Homo sapiens: one gene and its partners. The protein of the gene in region 1 purifies or fractionates together with the protein of each later gene. This does not show direct contact. Each region holds a gene or a part of one and is shown in the gene's direction. Other genes may lie near its edges.

Evidence for each region.
Region 2: the proteins of GBA1 (region 1) and NTRK1 purify together in Homo sapiens (affinity purification with mass spectrometry; 2 studies listed by BioGRID). This does not show direct contact.
Region 3: the proteins of GBA1 (region 1) and CANX purify together in Homo sapiens (affinity purification with mass spectrometry; 3 studies listed by BioGRID and IntAct, with this or other methods). This does not show direct contact.
Region 4: the proteins of GBA1 (region 1) and HSP90B1 purify together in Homo sapiens (affinity purification with western blotting; 2 studies listed by BioGRID and IntAct, with this or other methods). This does not show direct contact.

What each region holds. Positions count from the first base shown.
Region 1 is NC_000001.11:155,238,250-155,245,725, reverse strand, and holds the start of GBA1 (lysosomal acid glucosylceramidase isoform 1 precursor), read left to right. Parts: upstream 1-4,476; 5' UTR 4,477-4,613; coding exon 4,614-4,640; intron 4,641-5,008; coding exon 5,009-5,096; intron 5,097-5,648; coding exon 5,649-5,840; intron 5,841-5,963; coding exon 5,964-6,110; intron 6,111-7,075; coding exon 7,076-7,209; intron 7,210-7,419; coding exon 7,420-7,476. UniProt on the Homo sapiens protein: Glucosylceramidase that catalyzes, within the lysosomal compartment, the hydrolysis of glucosylceramides/GlcCers (such as beta-D-glucosyl-(1<->1')-N-acylsphing-4-enine) into free ceramides (such as N-acylsphing-4-enine) and glucose.
Region 2 is NC_000001.11:156,863,865-156,870,864, forward strand, and holds part of NTRK1 (high affinity nerve growth factor receptor isoform 2 precursor), read left to right. Parts: intron 1-489; coding exon 490-564; intron 565-863; coding exon 864-935; intron 936-3,045; coding exon 3,046-3,114; intron 3,115-4,239; coding exon 4,240-4,385; intron 4,386-4,640; coding exon 4,641-4,783; intron 4,784-7,000. UniProt on the Homo sapiens protein: Receptor tyrosine kinase involved in the development and the maturation of the central and peripheral nervous systems through regulation of proliferation, differentiation and survival of sympathetic and nervous neurons.
Region 3 is NC_000005.10:179,693,973-179,702,235, forward strand, and holds the start of CANX (calnexin isoform d precursor), read left to right. Parts: upstream 1-4,994; 5' UTR 4,995-5,130; intron 5,131-5,602; exon of another isoform or gene 5,603-5,639; coding exon of another isoform or gene 5,640-5,798; intron 5,799-6,502; exon of another isoform or gene 6,503-6,561; intron 6,562-8,263. UniProt on the Homo sapiens protein: Calcium-binding protein that interacts with newly synthesized monoglucosylated glycoproteins in the endoplasmic reticulum. It may act in assisting protein assembly and/or in the retention within the ER of unassembled protein subunits.
Region 4 is NC_000012.12:103,940,410-103,947,409, forward strand, and holds part of HSP90B1 (endoplasmin precursor), read left to right. Parts: intron 1-1,000; coding exon 1,001-1,138; intron 1,139-1,219; coding exon 1,220-1,297; intron 1,298-1,422; coding exon 1,423-1,488; intron 1,489-2,117; coding exon 2,118-2,387; intron 2,388-2,664; coding exon 2,665-2,910; intron 2,911-3,328; coding exon 3,329-3,465; intron 3,466-6,208; coding exon 6,209-6,287; intron 6,288-6,376; coding exon 6,377-6,532; intron 6,533-6,901; coding exon 6,902-7,000.

The sequences.
Region 1 (7,476 bases):
TTTTTTGAGACAGGGTCTTGCTTTGTTACCCAGGCTGGAGTGCAGTGGTGTGATTTGGGCTCACTGCAACCTTCCACCTCCTGGGTTCAAGCAATTCTCCTGCCTCAGCCTCCCGAGTAGCTGGGATTACAGGCGCCCGTCCCCATGCCCGCCCAGCTAAATTTTGTATTTTTAGAAGAGATAGGGTTTCACCATGTTGGCCAGGCGGGTCTCAAACTCCTGACCTCAAGTAATCCGCCTGCCTCGGTCTCCCAAAGTGCTGGGATTACAGGTGTGACTCACCGCGCCTGGCCACATACCCATGGTTTCAGCATGTATCACTATCTAAAATTATTATTTTTGTTTATATATCTGTGTCGTCCCATAGAATGTTAAGGTCCCAAGATCAGAAACTTGCTCATTGCAGTGGGTCTAACACTCAGTAGGTCCTCAACAAACATTCGTTAAGATACTAAAGTGGCAGGGTGGGGCCCTGTAAACAGCTTCAGGACCCTGTGCTTGTAGGGGCAACGTGGTGCCCTCCAAGGAAGACAGGGAGGTGGGAGGAGCACTGCCCAGAGATGGCGTCAGGCTGCAAGACTTCTTGAATAATTCAGCATCATAACAACCCAGCCTCAGGAAGGGATAGGGCACGGCCAGGACGAAACATTAGGAGGCGATGGACAATGGGATTCCCACGGGGCAGCTTCTGCGCACTGGACGTTCCCTAACCTGAGGCTCTCTAAAGAGGAAGGTTAGGAATCCTCTGAGCTTCGGTGGGCTGGACTCACTGTGGGAATTCAATCGCCCCCATCCACCAACAGTGTGCTGGCGGGAAAACGCCGACACGCATGCGTAGTTCTCGCGCCGGCTCCTCTCTCTCTCTCTCTCTCTCTCGCTCGCTCTCTCGCTCTCTCGCTCTCTCTCGCTCGCTCTCTCGCTCTCGCTCTCTCTCTCTCTCCGGCTCGCCAGCGACACTTGTTCGTTCAACTTGACCAATGAGACTTGAGGAAGGGCTCTGAGTCCCGCCTCTGCATGAGTGACCGTCTCTTTTCCAATCCAGGTCCCGCCCCGACTCCCCAGGGCTGCTTTTCTCGCGGCTGCGGGTGGTCGGGCTGCATCCTGCCTTCAGAGTCTTACTGCGCGGGGCCCCAGTCTCCAGTCCCGCCCAGGCGCCTTTGCAGGCTGCGGTGGGATTTCGTTTTGCCTCCGGTTGGGGCTGCTGTTTCTCTTCGCCGACGGTAGGCGTAATGAATATTTCGACCTTTGGATCTTAGCTGTCCCCTCCCTGCGTTCGCACTTAACCTTTTTCACCATTATTATTATTATTGTTATTATTATTATTTTTTGAGGGAGTCTCGCCCTGTCGCCCAGGCTGGAGTGTAATGGCGCCTTCTTGGCTCACTGCAACCTCCGCCTCCCGGGTTCAGGCGATTCTCCGACCTCAGCCTCCCAAGTACGTGGGATTACAGGCACCCGCCACCACGCACGGCTAATTTTTTGTATCTTTTAGTAGAGACGGGGTTTCACCATGTTGGTCAGGCTGGTCTCCAATTCCTGACCTCGTGATCCGCCCGCCTCGGCCTGCCAAACAGCTGTGATTATAGGCGTGAGCCACCGCGCCCGGCCAACCATCATTATTATTTTTAACGGTAAGGATGGTCAGATTTTACTAATGAAGAAGAGATTATAAAATCTTCAAGTCTTTATATCCACTTGCTTTTTGAGGGGTGGAGTGGGAAGAAGGTTATGTAATTCATACGTTCTTCAGACATGTGACAAACATTCACGGAGCCCGGCGACGAGCGTCGGGGTTGGGATTCGCACTGGAGCTGCAGATGGGTGCCAGGATGGACTGGTCCCTACCCTCCGCTTGAACCTAGGAGGCGGAGGTTGCAGTGAACCGAGATCGTGCCACTGCACTCCAGCCTGGGTGACAGAGATACTCCGTCTCAAAAAAAAAAACAAAACAAAAAACAAGCGGACTGGGCGCAGTGCCTCACCCTGTAATCCCAGCACTTTGCAAAGCCAAGGCGGGAGGATCCTTTGAGTTTAGGAGTTTGAGACCAACCTGCGCAACACAGTAAGACCCCGTCTCTACAAAAAATACAGAAATTAGCCAGGTGTGGTGGTGTGCGCCTATAGTCCCAGCTATTCTGGAGGCTGAGGTGGGAGGATTGCTTATTCTGGAGGCAGAGGTTGCACTGAGCCGAAATCAAGCTACTACACTCCATCCAGGGCAACATACGGAGACCCTGTCTCAAACAAACAAACAAAAAATTGCTCAGTACCTGGCCAAAAAAGAAGAGGCTCACTATGCAGAGGGGAAGTGGAAGGAGATGTTTGGACTTCTAAACTCAATAGAGCAGGAGAGGCAAATGTAGAATGTGCTCAGGAAATATCTGTGAGATGAATGAACTTGAGGGAAGTAAGGTACTAGATATTACCTGCCCTACCCAGAACAAATCCTGTGCAATGTTTCCTTGAAAAGTGAGAAGTCTGGAAGGGGTGGCTACTGACATAGTGAAGCAACTAGTTCAATTCTACAACTTGACAGCTACCCCTGTGCCAGGCTATCTACGAGGATACTTAGAATGCATAAGACATTCCTTCAAGGAACTCCAGGAACAGAGGCCTGACATGTTGCAATGTTTAGTGTCAAGCAGTGTACTAGAGACACATTATCACACTCAAACCTCACAACAATTCTGTGAGGTAGGAGTTATCACTCCCCTTTTATAGATGAAACAGAGGCTTAGAGTGATTGATTTATTGAAAGTCAAACAGCCAGTAAATGGTGTAGCCAGGATTCCAAACTTGCTGTCTCACTGAGACTGTACTTAATTACTGGAGGGACCGGGTGTGGTGGCTCATTGCTATAATCCCAACACCTTGGGAGGCTGAGGCTGGTGGATCACCTGAGGTCAGGGGTTCGAGACCAGCCTGGCCAACATGGTGAAACCCCATCTCTACTAAAAATACAAAAATTAGCTGGGCATGGTGGTGGGCTCCTGTAATCCCAGCTACTCAGGAGGCTGAGGCAGGGCAATTGCTTGAGCCGAGATCACACTGCACTCCAGCCTGGGCAACAGGGCAAGACTCTGTCTCAAAACCAAAAAAAAAAAAATTACTGGAGGAACCTAGAAGAAGAAATGATCAATTTTGCTTGGAGTGTATCTAGAAAGACTTCACTGAGATCATTTAAAGAACAAAAAGGATGGCTGGGGTCCAGCGCAGTGGCTCATGCCTGTAATCCCAGCACTTTCGGATACCAAGGCAGCAGATCACCTGAGGTCCAGAGTTTCAGACCAGCCTGGCCAACATAGTGAAACCCCATCTCTACTAAAAATAAAAAAATTAGCTGAGCATGTTGGAGGGCACCTGTAATCCCAGCTACTTGGGAGGCTGAGGCAGGAGAATCACTCGAACCCAGGAGGTGGAGGTTGCAGTGAGCCAAGATCACGCCACTGCACTCCAGCCTGGGCAACAGAGTGAGACTCTGTCTCAAAAAACAACAACAACAAAAAATACAAACAAGAGACAAGTAGTTCCCAGGTGCCTACCAAGTGGTCAGGCACTGCACTTACCTCACTGACTGCAGTAACCACCCTTTGAGGTTGTGGCATTGCCTCCATTTTCCAGGCAAGGAAATGGGCTGAGAGCTGGGATTAGTCAGGTCATGACTGTGTGTGCCACTCCCGCTAAATCTCATTTGATGTGGTTCATGAGGCCACACCATGGACAGCTTCCTCCTTGTGTCCACTGAGGATATGGCTTTGTACAACACTTTGGTTTTTGAACGACTTTACAAACCTCCCTGTCTTGTGAGGAAGGAAGAACAGTTATTACCATCTGCATCTGATGATGAAACAAGGGACGCTGCAGAGGAGCCGCACTGACCACTCCCTCCCTCCAGTCCTGTCATCCCACTGCCAGTGTCCCACCCTCTTGTGCCCTGCACTTCACTGGCTAATAACCCCCCTCACTTTTTCCTCTGTGAAGCCATCCTGGATAATTCCCCACCCACGAATGGTCCCTCCTCATCTCAGAGAGCTCTCCATGCACACCTGTTACCGTTTCTGTCTTTATCTGTAAATATCTGTGTGTCTGACTTCCATGCCTCACACACCTCTATAGGGCAAAGACTGTCTTAAACATCTTGGTAGTGTCAGTATTTTGCACAGTGAAGTTTTTTTTTTTAAATTATATCAGCTTTATTTGTACCTTTTTGACATTTCTATCAAAAAAGAAGTGTGCCTGCTGTGGTTCCCATCCTCTGGGATTTAGGAGCCTCTACCCCATTCTCCATGCAAATCTGTGTTCTAGGCTCTTCCTAAAGTTGTCACCCATACATGCCCTCCAGAGTTTTATAGGGCATATAATCTGTAACAGATGAGAGGAAGCCAATTGCCCTTTAGAAATATGGCTGTGATTGCCTCACTTCCTGTGTCATGTGACGCTCCTAGTCATCACATGACCCATCCACATCGGGAAGCCGGAATTACTTGCAGGGCTAACCTAGTGCCTATAGCTAAGGCAGGTACCTGCATCCTTGTTTTTGTTTAGTGGATCCTCTATCCTTCAGAGACTCTGGAACCCCTGTGGTCTTCTCTTCATCTAATGACCCTGAGGGGATGGAGTTTTCAAGTCCTTCCAGAGAGGTAAGAGAGAGAGCTCCCAATCAGCATTGTCACAGTGCTTCTGGAATCCTGGCACTGGAATTTAATGAATGACAGACTCTCTTTGAATCCAGGGCCATCATGGCTCTTTGAGCAAGGCACAGATGGAGGGAGGGGTCGAAGTTGAAATGGGTGGGAAGAGTGGTGGGGAGCATCCTGATTTGGGGTGGGCAGAGAGTTGTCATCAGAAGGGTTGCAGGGAGAGCTGCACCCAGGTTTCTGTGGGCCTTGTCCTAATGAATGTGGGAGACCGGGCCATGGGCACCCAAAGGCAGCTAAGCCCTGCCCAGGAGAGTAGTTGAGGGGTGGAGAGGGGCTTGCTTTTCAGTCATTCCTCATTCTGTCCTCAGGAATGTCCCAAGCCTTTGAGTAGGGTAAGCATCATGGCTGGCAGCCTCACAGGATTGCTTCTACTTCAGGCAGTGTCGTGGGCATCAGGTGAGTGAGTCAAGGCAGTGGGGAGGTAGCACAGAGCCTCCCTTCTGCCTCATAGTCCTTTGGTAGCCTTCCAGTAAGCTGGTGGTAGACTTTTAGTAGGTGCTCAATAAATCCTTTTGAGTGACTGAGACCAACTTTGGGGTGAGGATTTTGTTTTTTTTCTTTTGAAACAGAGTCTTACTCTGTTGCCTGGGCTGGAGTGCAGTGGTGCAATTTTGGCTCATTCCAACCTCTGCCTCCCAGATTCAAGCGATTCTCTTGCTTCAGCTTCCCAGGTAGCTGGGATTACAGGCGGCCACCACTACGCCCAGCTAATTTTTGTATTTTTAGTAGAGACGGGGTTTCACCATGCTGGCAAGGCAGGTCTCAAACTCCTCACCTCAGGTGATCCGCCCACCTCGGCCTCCTAAAGTGCTAGGATTACAGGTGTGAGCCCCTGCGCCCGGCCAAGGGGTGAGGAATTTTGAAACCGTGTTCAGTCTCTCCTAGCAGATGTGTCCATTCTCCATGTCTTCATCAGACCTCACTCTGCTTGTACTCCCTCCCTCCCAGGTGCCCGCCCCTGCATCCCTAAAAGCTTCGGCTACAGCTCGGTGGTGTGTGTCTGCAATGCCACATACTGTGACTCCTTTGACCCCCCGACCTTTCCTGCCCTTGGTACCTTCAGCCGCTATGAGAGTACACGCAGTGGGCGACGGATGGAGCTGAGTATGGGGCCCATCCAGGCTAATCACACGGGCACAGGTAACCATTACACCCCTCACCCCCTGGGCCAGGCTGGGTCCTCCTAGAGGTAAATGGTGTCAGTGATCACCATGGAGTTTCCCGCTGGGTACTGATACCCTTATTCCCTGTGGATGTCCTCAGGCCTGCTACTGACCCTGCAGCCAGAACAGAAGTTCCAGAAAGTGAAGGGATTTGGAGGGGCCATGACAGATGCTGCTGCTCTCAACATCCTTGCCCTGTCACCCCCTGCCCAAAATTTGCTACTTAAATCGTACTTCTCTGAAGAAGGTGAGGAGGAAGGGGACAAGATGACATAGAGCCATTGAAACTTTTCGTTTTTCTTTTCTTTTTTTAAAATTTTTTTGAGGCAGAATCTCACTCTGCCCATTCTGTCGGCGAGACAGGAGTGCAGTGGTGTGATCTCCCCTCACAGCAACCTCTGCCTCCCAGGCTATAGTGATTCTCCTGCCTCAGCCTCCTGAGTAGCTGGAATTATAGGCGTGCGCCACTACCACCTGGCTAATTTTTGTATTTTTAGTAGAGACAGGGTTTCATCATGTTGACCAGGCTAGTCTTAAACTCCTGACCTCAAATGATATACCTGCCTTGGCCTCCCGAAGTGCTGGAATTACAAGTGTGAGCCACCGAGCCCAGCAGACACTTTTCTTTTTTCTTTTTTTTTTTTTGAGACAGAGTCTCGCACTGTCACCCAGGCTGGAGTGCAGTGGCACAATCTCAGCTCACTGCAACCTCCACCTCCCGGGTTCAGGTGATTCTCCTGTCTCAGCCTCTCGAGTACCTGGGATTACAGGTGCCTGCCACCACGCCCGGCTAATTTTTTGTATTTTTAGTAGAGACAGGGTTTCACTATGTTGGCCAGGATGATTGCGAACTCCTGACCTCGTGATCTGCCCACATCGGCCTCCCAAAGTGCTGGGATTACATGCGTGAGCCACTGACACTTTTCTTTGCCCTTTCTTTGGACCCTGACTTCTGCCCATCCCTGACATTTGGTTCCTGTTTTAATGCCCTGTGAAATAAGATTTCACCGCCTATCATCTGCTAACTGCTACGGACTCAGGCTCAGAAAGGCCTGCGCTTCACCCAGGTGCCAGCCTCCACAGGTTCCAACCCAGGAGCCCAAGTTCCCTTTGGCCCTGACTCAGACACTATTAGGACTGGCAAGTGATAAGCAGAGTCCCATACTCTCCTATTGACTCGGACTACCATATCTTGATCATCCTTTTCTGTAGGAATCGGATATAACATCATCCGGGTACCCATGGCCAGCTGTGACTTCTCCATCCGCACCTACACCTATGCAGACACCCCTGATGATTTCCAGTTGCACAACTTCAGCCTCCCAGAGGAAGATACCAAGCTCAAGGTAGGCATTCTAGCTTTTTCAGGCCCTGAGGGCCCTGATGTCTGGGGGTTGAGAAACTGTAGGGTAGGTCTGCTTGTACAGACATTTTGTCCCCTGCTGTTTTGTCCTGGGGGTGGGAGGGTGGAGGCTAATGGCTGAACCGGATGCACTGGTTGGGCTAGTATGTGTTCCAACTCTGGGTGCTTCTCTCTTCACTACCTTTGTCTCTAGATACCCCTGATTCACCGAGCCCTGCAGTTGGCCCAGCGTCCCGTTTCACTCCTTGCC
Region 2 (7,000 bases), 1.6 Mb from region 1:
CAGGGATGCCTGATATAAAAGGAGAACACCAATCTGAGAATGGACTTGTGTGTGTGCACGTGAGAGATGGACGTGAGCTTTGTTTCTGTGTGTCCATGGGTGAGCGTGTTCCTGCAGGCACATGTGCAGGTGCATGGCGTCATCTGTGCAGATGCTTATGCCTCTGTGTGTGCGCATGTGCATACCTAGGTGTGTGCATGTGTGCAAGAGGTATGTGAGAATGTGCATATGTGTGAGGGTGTGGGGATCCATATGTATGTGCGCTTGTGTGTTCATGCACACACATGTGCATGTGTGACTTGAGGTGCGTCTCTGTGCACATGTATGCATTTGTGTGTGCACGCCTGTGTAAGTGTGTATGCAGGTCTGAACAGGTGCATATGCGTGTGCATGTGGCATGTGCATGTGTATTGTGAGGGAGTAAGTGGGTGGGCATGGGAACTCAAGTGTGGGCCTGAGCCCTGTGACTCCCATCCGCTCTCCCCACAGCTACATCGAGAACCAGCAGCATCTGCAGCATCTGGAGCTCCGTGATCTGAGGGGCCTGGGGGAGCTGAGAAACCTGTGAGGGAAACGGGGACTGTGGGTGTGGAGCTCAGCATGGGCCTGGGGGAGACCAGAAGGTCAGGGAGGGCTCAAGCATCCGAGGGCCTGGGAGGACCTGAGAGGCTGAGCACTGAGGGACTGGGAGAAGTCAGGAAGCTCAGGGCTTTGAGGGGTCTAGAGTAGTTGAGGAAACAATGAGGGGCCTGAGGAGGGGTAGGGGTTCAGCACAGGGGACTGGGAGGCTGGGATGGGCAGGGAGGGCCAGGGGCCCAGAGTAGCTGAGACCTGGGGACTGATCCTCCTGCACCCCTCCCCAGCACCATCGTGAAGAGTGGTCTCCGTTTCGTGGCGCCAGATGCCTTCCATTTCACTCCTCGGCTCAGTCGCCTGTGAGTGTGGCCAGTGCTGGGCAGTGGGAGTTGGGGAGGACACCCAGACTTGGGCTGCTAATGGGCTTGGCTGTCCCCGGGGAATGATTGCGAGGAGGGCCCAAGCCTGGTCAGGGAAGTCACCTCACCATTCTCCTGGGGCTTCCTCCCATCTCCCTCAGGGATGGCATGCTCTCGCCCCTGACAGCTAGAGGTCCTCCTTGCCATCTCACTTCCATGGTCCATGCTGCAAGGACACTTCTCATAGGTGCCTGCCCTATCTTTCTTCCCAGGGCTCAGATACACACCAGTGCAAAGGGAGCAAGCGGCAGGAGCAGGACTCCTGGGTTCTGGCTGGGACTCCATTTCCCAGGGACTCATTGACTTGGCCCCTAGGACATCCTGGGAGCTGGGGTGTTAGGTCTGCCACTTGTCACCCTCCTCATTCCTGGGAGTCATAACTATCCCTCCTGTAGAGCAGTGGACCCCAACTTTTTTGGCACCAGAGACTGGTTTCATGGAAGACAATTTTACCACGGATGGTGCGGGAGGAGAGGATGATTTCAGGACGAAACTGTTCCACCTCAGATTATGAGGCATTAGTTAGATTCTCAAAAGGAGCACACAACCTAGATCCCTCACGTGCGCAGTAGTTCACAGAATCTAATGCTGCCATTGATATGACAGGAGGCGGAGCTCAGGCGGTAATGCTCACTCACCGCTGCTCACCTCCTGCTGTGTGGCCCGGTTCCTAAGAGACCACATATTTGCCCTGTTTATAGCCCCTCTTCCTTGCTGTGCTTCTCTTTTTCTTTAATTTATTTTTTAAGAGTCAGGGTCTCCCTCTGTTGCTCAGGCTGGAGAATAGTGGCACTATTACCCATCTGTGGCCTGGGAATTGGGGACCCCTGCTGTAGGACAGAGAGGGTCATGGGATGGGCAGGAGAGACTATCAGAGTCCCTGGCAGCCCCTCCCTGGCCTTCTGAGGGCAGGAGTTCAGCTCCCCTGTCCCCCAATATGAGCAGGCAGAGAGATGGGAAGGATGGTGGGGCTGACACTCATGGAGTTATGCAGGGTCCTCTAAACTCTGCTGTGTCCAGCAATTTAACAAAGCAAAATAAAGTGATGTCATATCACCGTCTATGCACCGGGGCTTCAGTTAAAAACGTGCTCAATGACACTTCACGATACTTATGTCAATGAATCTTCACAATCAACCTGGTGAGAGAGAGAGTGTTCTTGTCCCCATTTCATAGATGAGAATTCTGAGAATCAGAGAGGTTGAGTTTCTGGACTGAGGTCACACAGCTGTAAGTGGCAGGATAGAACTTACACCTGCTCTAGCTGGCTCTAGAGTGGGTTGTGTCTTTGGTCCCTATGTGGTGGTACTTCTCCCACCCAGCCACCACAAATTCTAGGTTGGCTAGGAAAGAAGAGGGGTCAGGATAGGCCCCTCAGAGGCAGAGGGTCCCAGCAGCGGCAGCCTGGCACAGGGCACAGGGCACTGGGGCTCCTACATCATTTTCCTGTGTGGCCTGGAGCCGGGCCCCTGCTGGGCTCACTTTTTCCATCCATACAACGAGGGGGCTGGGGGTGTGGGGGTGTGGGTCCTTTCCTGCCTGACCTTTTAGTCCCTGAGGAGGGCCCGGAAGGAGGAGGAGGAGGGGAGCTGAGGAAGTGCGTGGAGTTCCTTGTGGTCAGGTAGGGGCAAGGGAGTGGCAGCCTCAACCCTCCCCCTCTTCCTCTGGCCCCGTCCTGGGCTCTGTAGGGAGGGGAGCACAGATGGACCCCTTCCCCCAGCTGTGGCCTCAGCACTTTGCCAGCTGGGGCCAAAGCAGTGGGGGAGGGAGGAGCGGCTGTTCCCTCAGATCCCCCTCCCTGGGGTCTGGAGAGGGGGTTAAGTGGGGTTAACCCTTGTTGTCCCAGGGAAAGGAGTGGGACTCAGAAAGTCCCCCCACCCCCCACCCCACCATCTACACACACTGCCTTCCAGGGCTGGTTCTGGTTGCCTAGGCCGGGGCGGGGGAGCCAGATGTCAACTTCTTTCTTGGCTCCTCCCCTCCCTCATTCTGGTCAGAGTGAGGTCGGGTCACTCAAGGGGTCTGTCTTGCTGTGTCTCCACGCCCGCAGGAATCTCTCCTTCAACGCTCTGGAGTCTCTCTCCTGGAAAACTGTGCAGGGCCTCTCCTTACAGGAACTGTGAGTGGGGGCGCTTCCAGGGGCAAGAGCACCAAGTGTGTGTGTGCCTGTGTGCACTTGGGTCTGTTGGATGACATTGGGTCACTGTGTCTGTGTGACACTGCTGGGGGGTCTCTTTGGGGACTATGTGCATGCCAGTGAAACCCCCATCAAAGCAGGGGCTGCAGGACTACCCGTTAAGGGGGCTACTGCCCTGAGGAGCTGGCCTGGATGACTGTGTGTGTGCTGGGCCTGGCTGAGCAGATTACAGGCCCACTGTGTGTCCAAGGCACATCTGCCCACATTCCCAGGGCACCCTGCACAGGGGTGAGTGGGGCAGCAGGGGTCCATGTGTACCTGGTGGGCACTTAAAGCCTCTGGGTCACTCTGGGGGGCTGTGCCCTTCCCTCCTTGTCACCATGCTGAGAGCCCTTGCCTGGTTTCTCATCCTGGGGAGCCTGGGGTGAGGGAGCCCCATGCATCCCTCAGACGTCAGCTGTCTTGTCTTCCACTTTCTGCATTAGATTTCTTTCATTTTTACGTTATTTTTTCTTTTTGTAGAGTTGGGGTTTTGCCATGTTGCCCAGGCTGATCTTGAACTCCTGGGCTCAAGCCATCCTCCGCCTCGGCCTCCCAAAGTGCCGGGATAACAGGTGTGAGTCACAGCGCCTGGCTTATTTCTTTTCTTTTCTTTCTTTCTTTTCTTTTCTTTTCTTTTTTTTTTTTTATGAGACGGAGTCTCGCTCTGTCACCCAGGCTGGAGTGCAGTGGCACAATCTCATCTCGGCTCACTGCAAGCTCCGCCTCCTGGGTTCACGCCATTCTCCTGCCTCAGCCTCCTGAGTAGGTGGGACTACAGGTGCCCGCCACCATGCCTGGCTAAGTTTTTGCATTTTTAGTAGAGACGGGGTTTCACTGTGTTAGCCAGGATGGTCTCGATCTTCTGACCTTGTGATCCGCCCGCCTCGGCCTCCCAATGGCCTATTTCTTTGAATAACATCCTGTTACTGGAGTCAGAGAGAAAGACCTCTGTGTCCTCCCTTTCACCTGTAGACGGTCCTCCCTGCTGCCTAACTGCTCCCTCTTATCCCCTGTGATCCCTCAGGCCCTTTCCTTGACTCTGTTGGTGTCCCCCATGCCCCCCAGGGTCCTGTCGGGGAACCCTCTGCACTGTTCTTGTGCCCTGCGCTGGCTACAGCGCTGGGAGGAGGAGGGACTGGGCGGAGTGCCTGAACAGAAGCTGCAGTGTCATGGGCAAGGGCCCCTGGCCCACATGCCCAATGCCAGCTGTGGTAGGTGCCGGGTGAGGGAGGTGGTGTAAGGGGGCTGGGGAAGAGACCTACCTGCCTGAGGGAGAGGGCACTGAGCAAGCACTGAAAAGGCCTGGGGAATGGGCACTGGCAAAGGCTGGGGGAAACTGCCTGGGGTGACATCGCCTGGGCTCCAGGTCATTGAGGAGGGTGGGGGAAGGAGCAGCCCCGCAGTAGAGTTCTGGGGCCACTCCCAGCTCTAACACCCCTTGGCCCTCGGGCGTCCTGGGTGGCCAGGTGTGCCCACGCTGAAGGTCCAGGTGCCCAATGCCTCGGTGGATGTGGGGGACGACGTGCTGCTGCGGTGCCAGGTGGAGGGGCGGGGCCTGGAGCAGGCCGGCTGGATCCTCACAGAGCTGGAGCAGTCAGCCACGGTGATGGTGAGAAGACCTTCGCTGGCAGCCCCCAAGAGGTCCAGGCAGAGCACAGGGGACAAAGATGGGGAAAGAGAGACACACTGTGGAGGAAAGAGACAACGAATAAGGAGCACACTGAGGTTGAGGGACGGACAGAGATGGTTTAGACCCACAGGGCTCAGGCCTATGCTCTGGGGCAGCCCAGGGCACGCACACACCCTCAGGGTGGGCACTGACCCAGCAGGGACCCCAGGCTATACTTGAAGCCCCAGGACTTAGAACCCCTTTCTGGGAACATGGTGTTGGCTGCAAGGGAGAGGGTCACAGAAACCTTACATGTTGGAGCTGAGAGGAACCCAACAGACCATCCCTCCCGTACATCACTTTTCTCTCTCCCTTCCTTCCTTCCTTCCTTCCTTCCTTCCTTCCTTCCTTCCTTCCTTCCTTCCTTCCTTCCTTCCTTCCTTTTATGGAGTTTCGCTCTGTTGCCCAGGCTGGAGTGCAGTGGCGCGATCTTGACTCACCGCAACCTCCGCCTCTCGGGTTCAAGCGATTCTGCGATTCTCCTGCCTCAGCCTCCCGAGTAGCTGGGAGTACAGGCACGCGCCACCATGCCCAGCTAATTTTTGTATTTTTAGTAGAGACAGGGTTTCACTACGTTGGCCACGCTGGTCTCAAACTCCTGACCTCGTGATCCACCCACCTCGGCCTCCCAAAGTGCTGGGATTACAGGTGTGAGCCACTGTGCCCGGCAGATCACTTTTCTATATAAGGAAACTGGAACCCAGGGAGGAGGCACAATATCAGTTGTACTGCATCCGGGATGAGTTCTCGGGGGTATCGTGGTCTTTTTTCTGGAGATTCTGGAAGCAGCATCCTCTTGGGCATGTGATGAACGTATTAGTAAGGGAGGCATAGGTCTGGCTCCAGCTCTCTCACTAATTAATTCTGGGAATGACTTTCAGAAAAATCCCTTAATCTGCCTGCACTTTGGTTTTCTTATCTGTAAGCTGAGAAGGTGGACATGATGGCCTTCTGATGTCCTGCCTGCCCCTGGGCGTTCTCTGGCCTCTATCTCTGTTATCCATACATGCCTTTGGACATCTTCCCAGGCCTTACCCTTTGTCCTTAGGCTGGCGATGGGCCGATGAGAGTAGCCACAGGTAACTCAGTCGGCCTTGTTGACGAGGTCAACGGCAGCTGACAATGGGCTGTGCCCACCCAAAAAGCTGGCTCCACCTGGGCAGGAGGAGTGGATATGCAGGGACCAGGAATGTGTGCCTGGGGGGCTGGGAGCATGGTGTTTATTTGGGGAGCCTTCACTTTGGTGGGAGAGTCCACCCCAGAATTGCTGGAGGCCCCTGGAACCATGTTGAGGGAGATGCCACTGGGGCGCTGAGCAGGGGGCTTCAGACATGGTGGAGGGACAACTAGCCACTGAGCAGTTCCTCCCTGCTCCAGAGAGCAAAGCTGCCTAGAGTGAGTAAAAGAAAGGGGACCAGGCAGAGGCCATACCCCTGCATGGAGAGACCTTAGATCAACTCTGTTTGGGGTGATTCCAGGATTTGCTTTCTCTTTGGGAGACTTACATGTTTGCTACCATCTGTGTTTTCTAGAAACTACCTATACAAAAGTCACTCCCTACTGGGCACAGTGGCCCATACCTGTAATCCCAGCACTTTGGGAGGCCAAGGAGGGATAATCACTTGAGACCAGCAGTTTGAGACCAGCCTGGGCAACAAAGCAAGACCCTATCTCTTAAAAAAAATTGCACCCTAAATGGGTTAAATGGAGGAGAAGAGAGGCTGCTCTCCCTCAGTTAGGAGGATAAGGGGTGGCAGACCAGCTCAAGGGGAAGAGTTATTGGCCCCACAGTAGTTGGAGGGGATGGGACAGCCAAGGGAAGCAGAGGGCAGGGCAGGGCTTCCCCTCGAAGTGGCTGGAACCCAGAGCTTGCACAAAAGGCTGGAAACTCTACTGGAACCTTTGAACTCACATATTCCAATGGAAGCCTGGGGAAACCATACCTCCTCTGGCATGTGGTCAGAGGATTCCACATTTATAAAGTTTTCGGATAAATGAGATTTATCCACCACTTCATTATTTTCATTTTGTGAAAATCACTTTCTAAAATGTCAGAAGATAATTTGTCCACCTCTTCAGCTTACAAAACAAACAAAAAACCCACAGTTCAGCAAGATGAAGAATTGTCGTAAGATCATGTAACTTACACATGACAAA
Region 3 (8,263 bases), on another chromosome or scaffold:
AGCCTAACTATTAAGAAAGTAATGGGCCGGGCGTGGTGGCTTATGCCTGTAATCCCAGCTACTCAGGAGGCTGAGGCAGGAGAAGCGCTGGAACCCGGGAGGCCGAGGTTGCTGTGAGCTGAGATCCTGCCATTGCACTCCAGCCTGGGCAACAAGAGAGAAACTCCGTCTCAAAAAAAAAAAAAAAAAAAAAAAAAGGAATGAGAGCGAACAATACAGCCAGGATGGCTAAAGGTGACCCCAAGAAACCAAAGGGCAAGATGTCTGCTTATGTCTTCTTTGTGCAGACATGCAGAGAAGAATGTAAAAAGAAAAACCCTGTCAATTTTGCAGAATTTTCCAAGAAGTGCTCTGAAAGGTGGAAGACAATGTCCGGGAAAGAGAAGTCTAAATTTGATGAAATGGCAAAGACGGATAAAGTGCACTGTGATCGGGAAATGAAGGGACCAGCTAAGGGAGGCAAGAAGAAGAAGGATCCTAGTGCCCCCAAAAGGCCACCATCTGGATTCTTCCTGTTCTCTTCGGAAATCCGCCCCAAGATCAAATCCACAAACCCTGGCATCTCTATTGGAGATGTGGCAAAAAAGCTGGGTGAGATGTGGAATAACTTAAATGACAGTGAAAAGCAGCCTTACATCACTAAGACGGCAAAGCTGAAGGAGAAGTACGAGAAGGATGTTGCTGATTCTAAGTCGAAAGGGAAGTTTGATGGCTCAAAGCGTCCTGCTAAAGTTGCCTGGAAAAAGGTGGAAGAGGAAGATGAAGACGAGGAGGAGATGAGGAGGAGGATGAATAAACAAAGTGTTTATCTGTCAAAAAAAAAAAAGTAAATGGATAAAAATGTGAGTGCTCCCTCTCTCTGTGTGCCCACTTTCTCCTTCAAGCAAAAGGTAGGCATGAGCAAGGATGAGGGTGGCTTTGAGGGAAGGATGGAGAGACAAGCTATGAGAAGAAGCTGGATACGAAGGATAAATGGATCAACAATTTTGTTTACTCTTTTAAACATACTGCCTATTTTGAAAAAAGTACAAAAGCTAAAGCTAAAATTTATTCCTTTTTTAAGTTTTTATTTCTTTCATTTATTTATTTATTTTTGAGACGGAATCTTGCTCTGTCTCCCAGGCTGGAGTGCAGTGGCGCGATCTCAGCTCACTGCAAGCTCCGCCTCCCGGGTTCACGCCATTCTCCTGCCCCAGCCTCCCCAGCAGCTGGGACTACAGGCACCCGCCCCACACCCGGCTAATTTTTTTGTGTGTGTGGTTTTTTTTAGTAGAGACGGGGTTTCACCGTGTTAGCCAGGATGGTCTCGATCTCTTGACCTCGTGATCCACCCGCCTCGGCTTCCCAAAGTGCTAGGATTACAGGCGTGAGTTTGAGGCGGAGTTTCACTCTTGTTGCCCAGGCTGGAGTGCAATGGCGCAATCTCAGCTCACCGCATCCTCTGCTTCCTGGGTTCAAGCGATTCTCTTGCCTCAGCCTCCCGAGTAGCTGGGATTACAGGCATTAGCCACCATGCCCGGCTAATTTTGTATTTTTAGTAGAGACAGGGCTTCTCCATGTTGGTCAGGTTGGTCTCGAACTCCTGACCTCAGGTGATCCACCCGCCTTGGCCTCCCAAAGTGCTGGGATTACAGGCGTGAGCCACTGTGCCTGGCCTATTTTTATTTATTTATTTATTTTTATTTTTATTTTTTTTGAGACGGAGTCTCGTTTTGTCGCCCAGGCTGGAGTGCTGTGGCGCAATCTCCGCTCACTGCAAGCTCCGCCTTCCGGGTTCACACCATTCTCCTGCCTCAGCCTCCCGAGTAGCTGGGACTACAGGCGCCCGCCACTGCGCCCGGCTAATTTTTTGTATTTTTAGTAGAGATGGGGTTTCACCGTGGTCTCGATCTCCTGACCTCATGATCCACCCGCCTCGGCCTCCCAAAGTGCTGGGATTACAGGCGTGAGCCACTGTGCCTGGCCTATTTTTATTTTTTTAGACAGGGTGTTACTCTGGTACAGTGGCCCAATCTTGGCTCACTGCAGCCTTGACCTCTTGGCCTTAGACAATCCTCCCACCTCGGCCTCCTGAGTAGCTGAGACTACAGGCTCAAGCCACTATGCCAAGCTAATTTTTGTATATTTTGTAGAGATGGGGTCTTGTCATGTTGCCCAGGCTGGTCTTGAATCCTGGGTTCAAGTGATCCACCCACCTTCGCCTCCCAAAGTGCTGAATTAGAGGCATGAGCTACCTCACCCGGCCTGATTCTTTGTTGAAAAAATCATATGCATGTTTAAAGAAAGTGTCATTTCTTTTTTTTTTTTTTTTTTTTTTTTTGGAGACAGAGTCTGGCTCTGTCACCCAAGCTAGAGTGCAGTGGCACAATCTTGGCTCACTGCAACCTCTGCCTCCCGGGTTCAAGCGATTGTCCTGCCTCAGCCACCCGAGTATCTGGGACTATAGGTGTGCACCAGTATGCCCGGCTAATTTTTGTATTTTTAGTAGAGATAGGGTTTCACCATGTTGGCCATACTGGTCTTGAACTCCTGACCTCAGGTAATCCGCCCGCCTCAGCCTCCCAAAGTGCTGGCATTACAGGCGTGAGCCACTGTGCCTGGCCAAGAAAGTATTTCTGCTTCTAGAGTTTCAGGCCCCCTCTCCAGCATTAACCTTTCCTAGCAGTTTCTCGTGTTTCTTTCTAGTAAGCTTGTTTGGCCAAGCTTACATGTATGAGAATACATCTCCCTTTTCAGTATGAAAGGAAACACACCTTTCTCTGTGCTTTTTCACATGACACTAAATCTTGACTGTTGCTCCATGTCAGAATGTAAACAGGCTGTAAACCTCTTGTTACTGCACTTCCTTTTATTGGTTTTCACAGATGCTGTGTTTTTACAAATTGAATGTGGCAACCCTGCATCAAGTAAGTCTATAAGCACCATTTTTCCAACAGCACGTACTCACTTCTGGTCTCTGTCACATTTTGGGAATTCGTATAATATGTTTTCATTATTATATCTGTCATGGTGATCCAGGTTGATGTTACTATTGTAATTGCTTTGGACTGCACAAACGATGCCCATGTAAAACATCTGTTTGTTTTTATTATTTATTTATTTAGAGACGGGTTCTCACTCTGTTGCCCAGGCTGGATGAAATGCAGTGGCCTGATCTTAGCTCACTGCAGCCTCCTCAATCAGGAGTCAAGGATACTCCTGCCTCAGTCTTCCTAGTATCTGGGTCTACGGGTGTGCACCATGCCAGGCTAATTTTTTTATTTTTATGTTTGTAGAGACAGGGGTCTCACTATGTTGCCCAGGCTAGTCTTGAACTCCTGGCCTCAAATGATCCACCTGCATCAGCTTCCCAAAGTGCTCAGATCACAGGGAGAGCCACCTCGCCCAGCCAATTCTGACCTCTTTGCCAGTCCATTCTGGATGGAAGCAGTCCCTCCCCTTCAGAATCCCATTGAATTCTCCATAGTACCACAGTCTTTTGGCACTTACCTTTGCAGGAGTAGCTCTTTTGCTCACAAATGTACTTCCTGTAACTACATTTTAAGCTCATTATTTGGATCATGTAGCATCCAGAATTTTATTCTGCTTTGAATAGCTGCTTCCCCAGGTAGACAGGAAACCAAAATTCTCCTACACAAATTTTGGGGCTGAAGTTGGGGCGCCGTGGCTCACGCCTGTAATCCCAGCACTGTGGGAGGCAGAGGCAGGTCGATCACCTGAGGTCAGCCTGGCCAACATGGTGAAACCTGTCTCTACTAAAATACAAAAATTAGCCGGGCGTGGTGGCGGGCGCCTGTAATCCCAGCTACTCGGGAGGCTGAGGGAGAATCGCTTGAACCCGGGAGGCGGAGGTTGTAGTGAGCTAAGATCGCACCACTAGACTCCAGCCTGAGCGACAGAGCAAGACTTCGTCTCAAAAAAATAAAAATAAAAAAAATTTGGGGGTTGAGGGTTGGATGATACTAACTCATGCAAACACCAAACCCTGCCTTTCTTCCCCTTCCCGGTGGCAAGAGGGCTTTTCAGATCAGTGATACATTCGCTGATTCTAGTGTTTTCCACCCTAGTAGTCAAGCCTTTGGGTGTCCAAACAAATAGAGAACAAGAGATCAGGATCTCTAAAGGTCTAGAAAAACCCTGGGCCACTTCCATTTTGTGAGGTTCTCAGCATACTGAAAACTGAAGATGTACTAAGAGTGGGTTACTAAAATGGTGGCGTATCTTAAATCTTTCCATGGCACCATCCTTTCTCTCGTCCTGTCATCCCTGTATCTCTCTGCCCTGACACCTAATCTCACTTCAGGAAACATAAATTGAAAGTTCAAATAACCTCGGATTATATTATTCTGGACTGTGTGTTATGCTGGGCGACGAGGCTGCGCAGGCTCCTGGGCCGAGCCATGACTCTGCAGGAACTGCGGCGCCGGCTCACACAGCGCGGAGCAGTGCACGCCAATCCGGCCAGGCGCTCGCGCTGGGTTCTGCTCACGCCCGTAGGGGCCCGCGTTCGCTGCAACGGGCCCTTCCTGATGGCCGATCGTCGGACTCCTACCCCTTTTGCCGGCTGCCGTTTGCCCCGTCAGCGAAGGGCGCGCGATGCGTCCCAAGTCTCGGCTCCAGGAACCAGACGGGTGAGGGCTACTGGGGGTTGGGTTGGAACGCCCCGAAGGCACCACAGCAACCGACGCGGGAACGCCTGTTAAACCAGCCCCGCCCCGAGACGCGCGCGCCCGGCGGTCTCGATCCAGCGTGGCCCGCCCCTCACCTCCCGCCCAACCAACAGCCACTTCCTGCCTCACTCCCGGCCAATCTTCACACTCCACGAAGAATAGCCGTAGGGGGCGTATGGGACGGTGCGTAGAGCGATGCCCACGCCGGCCAACCGGATGTCGGGGCTTGCGCGGGAGGGCGGGACTTGGCGCCGGCTGTGGCTACTCAGGGGCCAGGGGCGGGCACAGGGCCGGGCTTCGTGCGGTGGGGCTCGCTCGCGCGGCAGCGGTGGCCGAGGCCTCTTGGTTCTGCGGCACGTGACGGTCGGGCCGCCTCCGCCTCTCTCTTTACTGCGGCGCGGGGCAAGGTGTGCGGGCGGGAAGGGGCACGGGCACCCCCGCGGTCCCCGGGAGGCTAGAGGTGAGAGGGGAGACCTGAGCGCGTCCTCGGGCCTGTGAGGACCTCGGGGGGCTGGGAGCGCCTCTGCGGCTGAGGGGTCGGGCGTGGCCGGCGACTGAGGGGTCGGGCTGGCTCTTGAGGGCCCAGGCCCTGGCCGACGCGCCCGCCGTGAGCGAGGAGGCCCGAATCCGGGCGTCTTTGGTTGGGTTGCGGGCCCAGGCCGCGCCGCCGGGGTCGGGAGGCGTGGCAGGTGGCCCGACAGCCTTCTTTGACCTCTGGGAAAGCTGACTTATTCCTATGGCTTTGCTTCTAGGGCTTTCTTAGGCCTCTTTGCCGGCTGCCTGGGCAGCCGCGAGGTGGGCTGGAGTAACTGGGTAAAAGTATAGGGTGGAATCGGGCCTACTAGGTACCCCTAGTAGTAGGGAAGGGTGGTATTAGACCGAGAGGGAATGTTTACAACTAGCGTTACAGTTTAATATTTGAAAATCCAAAGCGGAGACTGGACCCTAGTTCCCTGAAGAGAAAGGGGAATGTACCAGAAGGAGAACACGCAGTGGTTGAGAAACTTAGCAGTTACAGCACCTATTCTGGAGGCGAGTAATCCAGTTGGAGAGGGACAGGGCGTTAAAAGCAGGAAAGCCCCCGAAAGCTCATCTAAGTGCATCTCTTTCCACACCGGAGGCCTGGAGGTATGAAATGACTGGCCCAAGGTCATGCGATTAGTGTACTGATGGTGCTGGGATTATAGTTCAGGGATAGACCGTGCAGTGGTTAACGCTAAGGCCCTGGCTCGAGTCTTTGATTGGTCATTGGTTGCTCTGTGAACTTCGGCAGTTTTCTTACCCTTTGTGCCCCCGTTCTTGTCAAGTAATGGATATAATAATACCCGATGGATTTGTGAGGATTAAATTAAGATATGTATACAATAAGACAGGGAAGTCCGACATTTAGTAACTGCTCGATGATCATTGCGGTACGTTATTATAATCTGAATGCCTTTGGACCAATACACTGCCATCCTAGTGAACTGGTTCAGTCCTGTTTCGCAGGACCTGAGGTCACAGTTATGGTGATAGAAGAAACCGGGCATTGTGTATTACCGCTGGGCATGACACAAGTGATTGCTGGTTGAGGGAAGTTAAACTGAGCTTAATATTAAAAGATTGAGAGGACAAGATTAACCATAGTTAAGTCTTTTTACCTCTGATTTAGGAAATGGAAGATTTTGCTTAATTTTTTAATAAGTAGATTTTTTTAAGGGGGAAGAATTTTATTGATCTTTAAAATCATTCTGTATCTCAGTCTTTTCCCAACATTGTTTGAGGGTCATGAATAGAAGCAACTGCCATATGGATCAACTGTTGTACATTTGGTATAATTATACTTAGAGCAGAGGTAAAGGACTATGTGGGAGTTCTCCTGTGCATCAGCCAGGGTGCACACACAAGCCAGGTAACTGGATCATGAGAATGCTCGAGTGAACTGTGTGTGGGGGTCAGTGTTGCACAACAGAAATTTTCTGACTTATCTGCAAATGGCTGTCAGCATTCCCCGACACCTTACTATCCTTACTCCCCAGTTCATTTAGCGCATTATCTTCTCAGGGCCACAAGGGATAAGTGTTTTGACAGAAGTCGTTGCTGCCGTTTTGGCAATCACACTATTGCATCCTTTTAGTTAGAGTTCTCTTTGCCCTGGAAGACAGCTTAAGGGGATGAAGTGGCAGTTGGTGAGCATGAATTGCAGGCTCATGAAACTTGAATTGTGTGCCCAGTGTGGTAACCTTTTTTTTTTTTTTTTAGACGGAGTCTCGCTCTGTCACTCAGGCTGGAGTGCAGTGGCGCGATCTCGGCTCACTGCAAGCTCCGCCTCCCGGGTTCACGCCATTCTCCTGCCTCAGCCTCCCTTGTAGCTGGGACTACAGGTGCCCGCCACCACGCCCGGCTAATTTTGTTTTTGTATTTTTAGTAGAGACGGGGTTTCACCGTGTTAGCCAGGATGGTCTCAATCTCCTGACCTCGTGATCCGCCCACCTCGGCCTCCCAAAATGCTGGGATTACAGGCGTGAGCCACTGCGCCCGGCCCAGTGTGGTAGCTTTTGTCCCACTTTGGTTTCCGTAACTTCAAAATAGGAATGAGAAGTCTCCTGGGTTCCTCACCTTTAGGGGGCAATTGGGAGGGGCAGATAAAATGGTGAACATGAAACTACTTTAAAAAGTGTAATGAATTGGCTGGGCACGGTGGCTCTCACGCCTGTAGTTCGAGCACTTTGGGAGGCTGAGGTGGGCGGATTACTTGAGGCCAGGAGTTGGTAACCAGCCTCGCCAAAATGGTGAAACCCTGTCTCTACTAAAAATACAGAAAATTAACCTCCAGCTACTCGGGAGGCTGAGGCAGGAGAATCACTAAACCTGGAAGGCGGAGGTTGCAGTGAGCGGAGATGGTTCCATTGCACTCCAGCCTGGGTGACAGAGTGAGACTCCATCTCAGGAAAAACAAAAAAAAAAGTGTAATGAACTGTGCAAATAGAATACGCCGTTTATAATAACTCCTAGGAAATAATAAAAGTACCTAAACAGTTAAAACCTATACAGCTTTTGGTAAAACTTTTCAGGAAAGTCCTGGTTGAATTCTTTGTTACTCCAACAGATGTACTTTTTTTTTTTTTTTTTTTTTTTTTTTGAGACGGAGTCTCCCTCTCAGGCTGGAGTACAGTGGTGTGATCTTGGCTCACTGCAACCTCCGCCTCCTGGGTTCAAGCAATTCTCCTGCCTCAGCCTCCCAAGTAGCTGGGACTACAGGTGCCCACCACCACACCCGGCCCGGTTTTTTGTATTTTAGTAGAGACGGGGTTTCACCGGGTTGTCCAGGCTGGTTGCGAACTCCTGAGCTCAGGCAGTCCGCCCACCTCGGCCTCCCAAAGTGCTGGGATTACAGGTGTGAGCCACCGCGCTCAGCCTTACTTATTTTTTTAGAGACAGGGTCTTGCTCTTCATCAGGCTGGAGTGCAGTGGCGTGGTTATTGCTCACTGCAGTCTCAAACTCCTGCTGTTATTGGTTCAAGTGATCTTCCTGCCTCAGTCTCCTGAGTAGCTGGATCCACAGGCGGATGACGCTACACTCAGCTAATTTTTTTTTTTTTCCTAATTTTTCA
Region 4 (7,000 bases), on another chromosome or scaffold:
TGTTTAAAGTTAATGTTTCCCCAGCAGCATTTAGTACAAGCAGTAGAATGCTCTAGTGGACTTAACCATAGCTAAATAAAACTTAATATTCTGTGTCTGTATTTGTTCTTTTCTCTATTCCATATCCTTTAAATTTCAACTCTTAAAACACTGTTGGTTCTGCCTTCACTTTTATTTCCATAAACTCTAAAGTCCTAGTGTCTATAAACTTACTTCATATAAAGCAGCTGTATTAGAAATATAATTAATGTGAGCCACACATGATTTGAAATTTTTTAGAAGCCATACAAAAAAAGGAACCATGAAATGTTAATAGTATAATTTATTTAACCCAGCATACCCCAAATAGTATTATTTCAACATAATCAATATAAAAACTAATAATGAGACATTTTATATCCTTTTTAAAATTTGTACTGTGCCTTCAAAATGTATTTTACACTTTAATAGCACATCTGAATTTGAACTAGCTACATTTCAGTGCTTAACAGCCATATACAGTAATAGATAATGCAGATCAAGAGAATTTCCAACTTTGTTTTACAGGTATTTACATACATCTTTGTAGCCACTCTTAGAGCTAAGTTCCATGGAAGAAACATGTTCTTGAGTACTTACTGTAGTTCAAGGGCACACTGAAGTGTTGTATGTAATTTTGTCATTTAGGCAGGGTGGTGGTTTTCCTATTCACTTCTCTCATACGTAAGAAGTATAAACTCATCCTTCCTTCTGAGAGTTTAGGAAATAATGTTATTGACAATCATCATCAAAACAACCATGTCTAGTGAATTAGAATTGCAATTCTAGATATTTCTTCACTCCACCCTTTTCTTTCTCTTCCCCCCACCCTTTTCTTTCTCTTCCCCACCTCCCGCCAGTAAAGGAAAATTTTTTGTTAGTTAATTGCTAAACTGAATATGTACCACATAGTACATTGCTTAGTTCTTGCACTGCTTTTCTCCTGTGTCGTTTGAATGACTAAGATACCAACTTTCCACAGGAAAGTGATGACCCCATGGCTTATATTCACTTTACTGCTGAAGGGGAAGTTACCTTCAAATCAATTTTATTTGTACCCACATCTGCTCCACGTGGTCTGTTTGACGAATATGGATCTAAAAAGAGCGATTACATTAAGGTGAGTTTTTAAGTAGTACATGCTGCGTTTAAAATTTGAAAGTTTAATTTCCAGAAAGTGACTTTTTTTTGGTCTCTTTAGCTCTATGTGCGCCGTGTATTCATCACAGACGACTTCCATGATATGATGCCTAAATACCTCAATTTTGTCAAGGGTGTGGTAAGTATCTGAAGTTTGGGAGAAGGGGTGATTGTTGTGGGGGTCTGGCAGTGTAGAGTGTTTGTTTGGCTTTGCTTTCTTCCAGTGGTTTTATTGCTCACTGAACTTTCTTTTGCCATCTGAAGGTGGACTCAGATGATCTCCCCTTGAATGTTTCCCGCGAGACTCTTCAGCAACATAAACTGCTTAAGGTAAGTGTCTCTGGGAAGAAACTCTCCACTTTGCTGTTTGATTGGGGTTCAGAGGACAGGCTCCATTTGTGGAGTAAAACCAGATTTTGGGTCTGGTCCATGATTCTTCAGATGAATTTCCTTTCTTTCTGGAGTTATCAGATCCTAAGAATCTGATTCTTTTTCTCCCAACATTTAATAATGAAGTTTCAAACATCTAGAAAAAAATTAAAGAATTGTACAGGTCCAGGATTAACATTTTGTCATCTAGACACATAGCCACCTTTTTATCAAGCCTTTCATTAAACCTTTCCCCTCCAATACTTCCATAATTAGAAGACTCTTTAGTTTTTGAATTTAAAAGTATTTGAAAGTAGCATATTTGTTCACTTCATTTAGATGCTAGAGAGAGAGTATCACTGAGTCCTAAGGTTAGAATATAAACATTAAGGCAATCTTGTGGCTATTTGCACGGACAGCTGAATTTCAGCCCAATCTGAATGAATTGGAGTGCTTCACCATTTCCTGCCCCTCAATAAATGGCAATAACGATATCGTCTTTGTGTTTTTCACACTCCTGCCTGGGTACCTTACATTCTCAAAAGTTGGAGATTAACTTCTCTAATCAGTTATTCTTTCATTGTGTTTAGGTGATTAGGAAGAAGCTTGTTCGTAAAACGCTGGACATGATCAAGAAGATTGCTGATGATAAATACAATGATACTTTTTGGAAAGAATTTGGTACCAACATCAAGCTTGGTGTGATTGAAGACCACTCGAATCGAACACGTCTTGCTAAACTTCTTAGGTTCCAGTCTTCTCATCATCCAACTGACATTACTAGCCTAGACCAGTATGTGGAAAGAATGAAGGAAAAACAAGACAAAATCTACTTCATGGCTGGGTCCAGCAGAAAAGAGGTGAGATGAACTCATAAGTGTTGTCAGCCATTCTGGAAGGTAGCTAGGGATTTATAGCCAACTCTTGAGGGGGAGAAAAGGAAAACTTAATTGTGTAACTGGAGTAGTTATAAGGCCTGGTCAGTCACTGACAGGAAGGTCATTTATATTCTCTGAACCTCTTAATTCTTCACCTGTAAAATGGAGTTTTTAATAATGTATAAACATAGCAGCTGCTAGGATAAACAAATACACCAGGGCCAGACTTGGAAAACTTTGTGACTTCTTAATTTTGTAGGCTGAATCTTCTCCATTTGTTGAGCGACTTCTGAAAAAGGGCTATGAAGTTATTTACCTCACAGAACCTGTGGATGAATACTGTATTCAGGCCCTTCCCGAATTTGATGGGAAGAGGTTCCAGAATGTTGCCAAGGAAGGAGTGAAGTTCGATGAAAGTGAGAAAACTAAGGAGAGTCGTGAAGCAGTTGAGAAAGAATTTGAGCCTCTGCTGAATTGGATGAAAGATAAAGCCCTTAAGGACAAGGTACTGTGGAAATTACAAATTGTGGAAATATTAGTATCAGCATTTAAGAGAAAGTTATTTTGTGAACAAATTAAGCTGCAGCTGGTTACTTTGTAACCATTAGAATGGTAAAAATTTAATTAATGTAATTAAATTATTGGGAGAAAGCTTAAAACTTTCGACAATACTGCTTTGTTAATAACTTGTTACAAATTAAATTTTATGTTTTTAAAAGGTGGTATTTAAACTTCTGACTAGAAAATTCAGATTATCAAGTAAGTGCCCCTACAAATTCTCCTAAACCTTAAGAAAAGCTATTTTTATGACCTGCTTCTGTGTTTATGATCTTAAGTGATAAAGTCTTAGACAGTTGAAAGACAATTGCTCAATGACCTTACCTGTTGATATTAATTTATATGACTTGATTTCTTTCCCTAAGATTGAAAAGGCTGTGGTGTCTCAGCGCCTGACAGAATCTCCGTGTGCTTTGGTGGCCAGCCAGTACGGATGGTCTGGCAACATGGAGAGAATCATGAAAGCACAAGCGTACCAAACGGGCAAGGACATCTCTACAAAGTAAGCATCCTCGGGAAAGTCCCTGCCAGGGCGTTGCCCCTTACCCAATCTTTGTTTTGGAGATAATACCAGCTTCAATACAAAGAGTAAAATTGCCTTAAATGTCTACCACTGTCTACTATAAGGTAGACAACAAGTTTACGAAGGGATTTCTCCTACATTTGATTGAGAAAGAAAAGGTCTTTGACTCATGATTTTCTGATTTTATTGTATTTGATATGTAAATGGGAATTTTCTTAATGTGTTATGCATAGTCTTTACTTTTGCATTGGATTATATGCTTAGCCTAATATCTGAATTTATTTTACATTTTTAAATGTAATAGCTGCACGAGGTTAATGACAACATTCCTCAAGTGAGTTAAGTCCATTTCAAATCACGTCCCCCACACCCCCAAGCATTAAATTATGGGTATCCAGATAGAATGTCTCATAAAGTAGACGGTACAGGACCTGTGAATTAACAGTATTTGAACTCAAGGGCCTATACCTGGAGGTATAGTGAGTCTTTGGTACTCTTTATTTTCAAGAAATATAGTATTTCAAGTTTATGTTTTAATGTCACAGCAATGATCTTGAAAATGACTTCTCCCCTACTTTTATTCTCTCTTCTTTCACCTGGAGTATGTTTCTGATATGCTATCTAGTCATCATCCTTTTTTCCCAAGGCCTAGCTTAAGGATTCTTTTTTTTTTTCCCCCGAGACAGAGTCTTGCTCTGTCACCCAGGCTGGAGTACAGTGGCGCAATCTCTGCTCACTGCAACCTCCGCCTCCTGGGTTCAAGTAATTCTCCTGTCTTAGCCTCCTGAGTAGCTGGGATTACAGGCACCTGTCAGCACACCCGCTAATTTTTGTATTTTTAGTAGAGACGGTGTTTCACCATGTTGGCCAGGCTGGTCTCGAACTCCTGACCTCATGATCCGCCCTCTGCGGCCTCCCAAAGTGCTGGGATTACAGGCGTGGGCCACTGCGCCTGGCCAGGATTATTATTCTTAAAGCCTTTTCTCACAAATGTAGTCTCCATTGTTGTCACAATTCTAAAATTCCATATATGTCTTTTAACTATAAATTTCATGCAGAGAATAGTGTTCTGTTTATCTGATATCCCATTGCAATAGTACAAGGGCCATTTAAAACATGTCCACCTATTAATTTCAGGAAATGATTAATAGGAAGTTACCTTGCATCCAACAAACATGAAGACTTACTATGTCCATGCACTGATGGTCACAGGTAGACATAACTCCTGTCTTTTCTAACATTTAGACTAGTGAAAATGACAAATCAAAGCCAGGCATGGTGACTCACTCCTGTTGTCACTCAGGAGGCTGATGCAGGAGTATCAGTTGATTCCAAGAGTTCGAGGCTGTAGTGTGCTGTAATGGCATTGCACTCTAGCTCTAGCCTGGGTAACATAGCCAGACTCCGTCTCTTTTTTATTTAAAAAAGAGGAAAAAAAGCAAGTCATAATCCGAGCCCTACATAGATAATGGGTACACCAGGATAGGGAAGGATGTGGTTCCTCCCTGTCCTCAGAGCTTTAAACTAGAGAAGAGAGAATAATCACAACCAACAGTAAAAAGCTAAGGATTTTGAAGGTATATTCAAAATGCATTTGGAACTGAGCTCAGATAAAGTTAATTTTTCTTGGAATCATTGGCGAAGGCATCGTGGAGAAGGTATTATTATTGGAGCACAATCCAGAGGCTACATAGATTTTTCTGAACTTGGGGAGGCAGAGCTACAATTACGGTAGTAAGAATAAACTAAGAGGGAACAAACAGGACATTAAATCAGTTCGTCTGTTCAGCAGTGCTCCAGGTACTTGGGACTCATCAGTAAATAAAATAGTTCCCTTCATTTCATTTTTCATCTAACCGTGTCCACTTGCTCCCCACCCCACCTCCCCGTTAAAAGGGAGCAATACAGGCTGGGCACATGGCTCACGTGTGTAATCTCAACACTTTGGGAGGCTGAGGTGAGAGGATCACTTGAGGCCAAGAGTTCAAGACTAGCCTGTGCAATATAGTGATACCCTGTCTCTATAAAAACTAAATAAGGAAACAGTGCAGTCATCCCTTTTTGTCCATGGGGTGTTGGTTCCAGAACATCCCATGGATACCAAAATCCACACATAGTCAAGTCCCTTAGGTAAAGTCGTGCCGTATTTGCATATAACCTATGCACATCTTCCCATGTACTTTAAATAATCTATAGATTACTTTTAATACCTAATGCAATTTAAGTGCTATGTAAATAGCTATTATACTGTATTGGGTTTTTTATTTTTTTCTTGTTTTGCCCTTTCTAATATTTTCAATCCGAGGTTGATTGACTCTGCAGATAAAGTAGACTGGAAAAGTACAGTCGTCCTTAGGTGTATGAGGGAGATTGGTTCTAGGACCCCTGCCAAAATCCACAAATATTCTAGTCCCCCAGTCTGCCCTGTGGAACCCGTGTATATGAAGAGTGGGAGCTCTGTGTGTGTGGATTCCACATCCCAAGAATACGGTATTTTCTATCTGAGTTTGGTTGCTGAACCTGCACATACGGAGGGCGGACTGTATTTATTGGAAAAAAAATAGCATATAAGTTCAAACCTGTGGTGTTCAAGTGTCAATAGTACATTTTGATTTTTTTTTTTTACCAAGAGTTGTTCTGTGTAATTATGAAAGAATAAGGGAAACGTATGAACCCTAAAATTGGATATGTTTTGTTAATGTTCATTTTTATCTCTTAACAGTTACTATGCGAGTCAGAAGAAAACATTTGAAATTAATCCCAGACACCCGCTGATCAGAGACATGCTTCGACGAATTAAGGTAGTATTAAAGCAGTCCTCTTGCTTGTCTTTTAATTTGAGTACTTTGTATCTTTTAATATTAATCTAGTGCATCTTCTTGCATTTCAGGAAGATGAAGATGATAAAACAGTTTTGGATCTTGCTGTGGTTTTGTTTGAAACAGCAACGCTTCGGTCAGGGTATCTTTTACCAGACACTAAAGCATATGGAGATAGAATAGAAAGAATGCTTCGCCTCAGTTTGAACATTGACCCTGATGCAAAGGTTTGTATCCCCAACCTTCCCGCAAAGGCTGGCTGGCTTTCTTTGTTTCTGTTCTTTCAGAATAGGCCTCTCATGATTGAGGGATGTAGCTTTGCGACATTTGCCTAATTTCTACCTTTTGAAAGAATTTTATTGAATGTTTGAATCCCTGTAGTGTCAGGCACTGCACTAGAAACTAAGTCCTCCTTTTACGTCCTCTTTCCTTTTTGCCTGCCTCCTTTTGTTAGCTTGGCTGTTCATTCTAGTTAAGAGGATTTAGTCTGTGGTTCTGAATAAACAGAAGTGACATTAATTATGATTTTATACATATAAATGAGCAAAGTGGAAATAAATCCAAGGCATTAATGGGCCCATAAATGTTGTGTTTAGGTGGAAGAAGAGCCCGAAGAAGAACCTGAAGAGACAGCAGAAGACACAACAGAAGACACAGAGCAAGACGAAGATGAAGAAATGGATGTGGGAACAGAT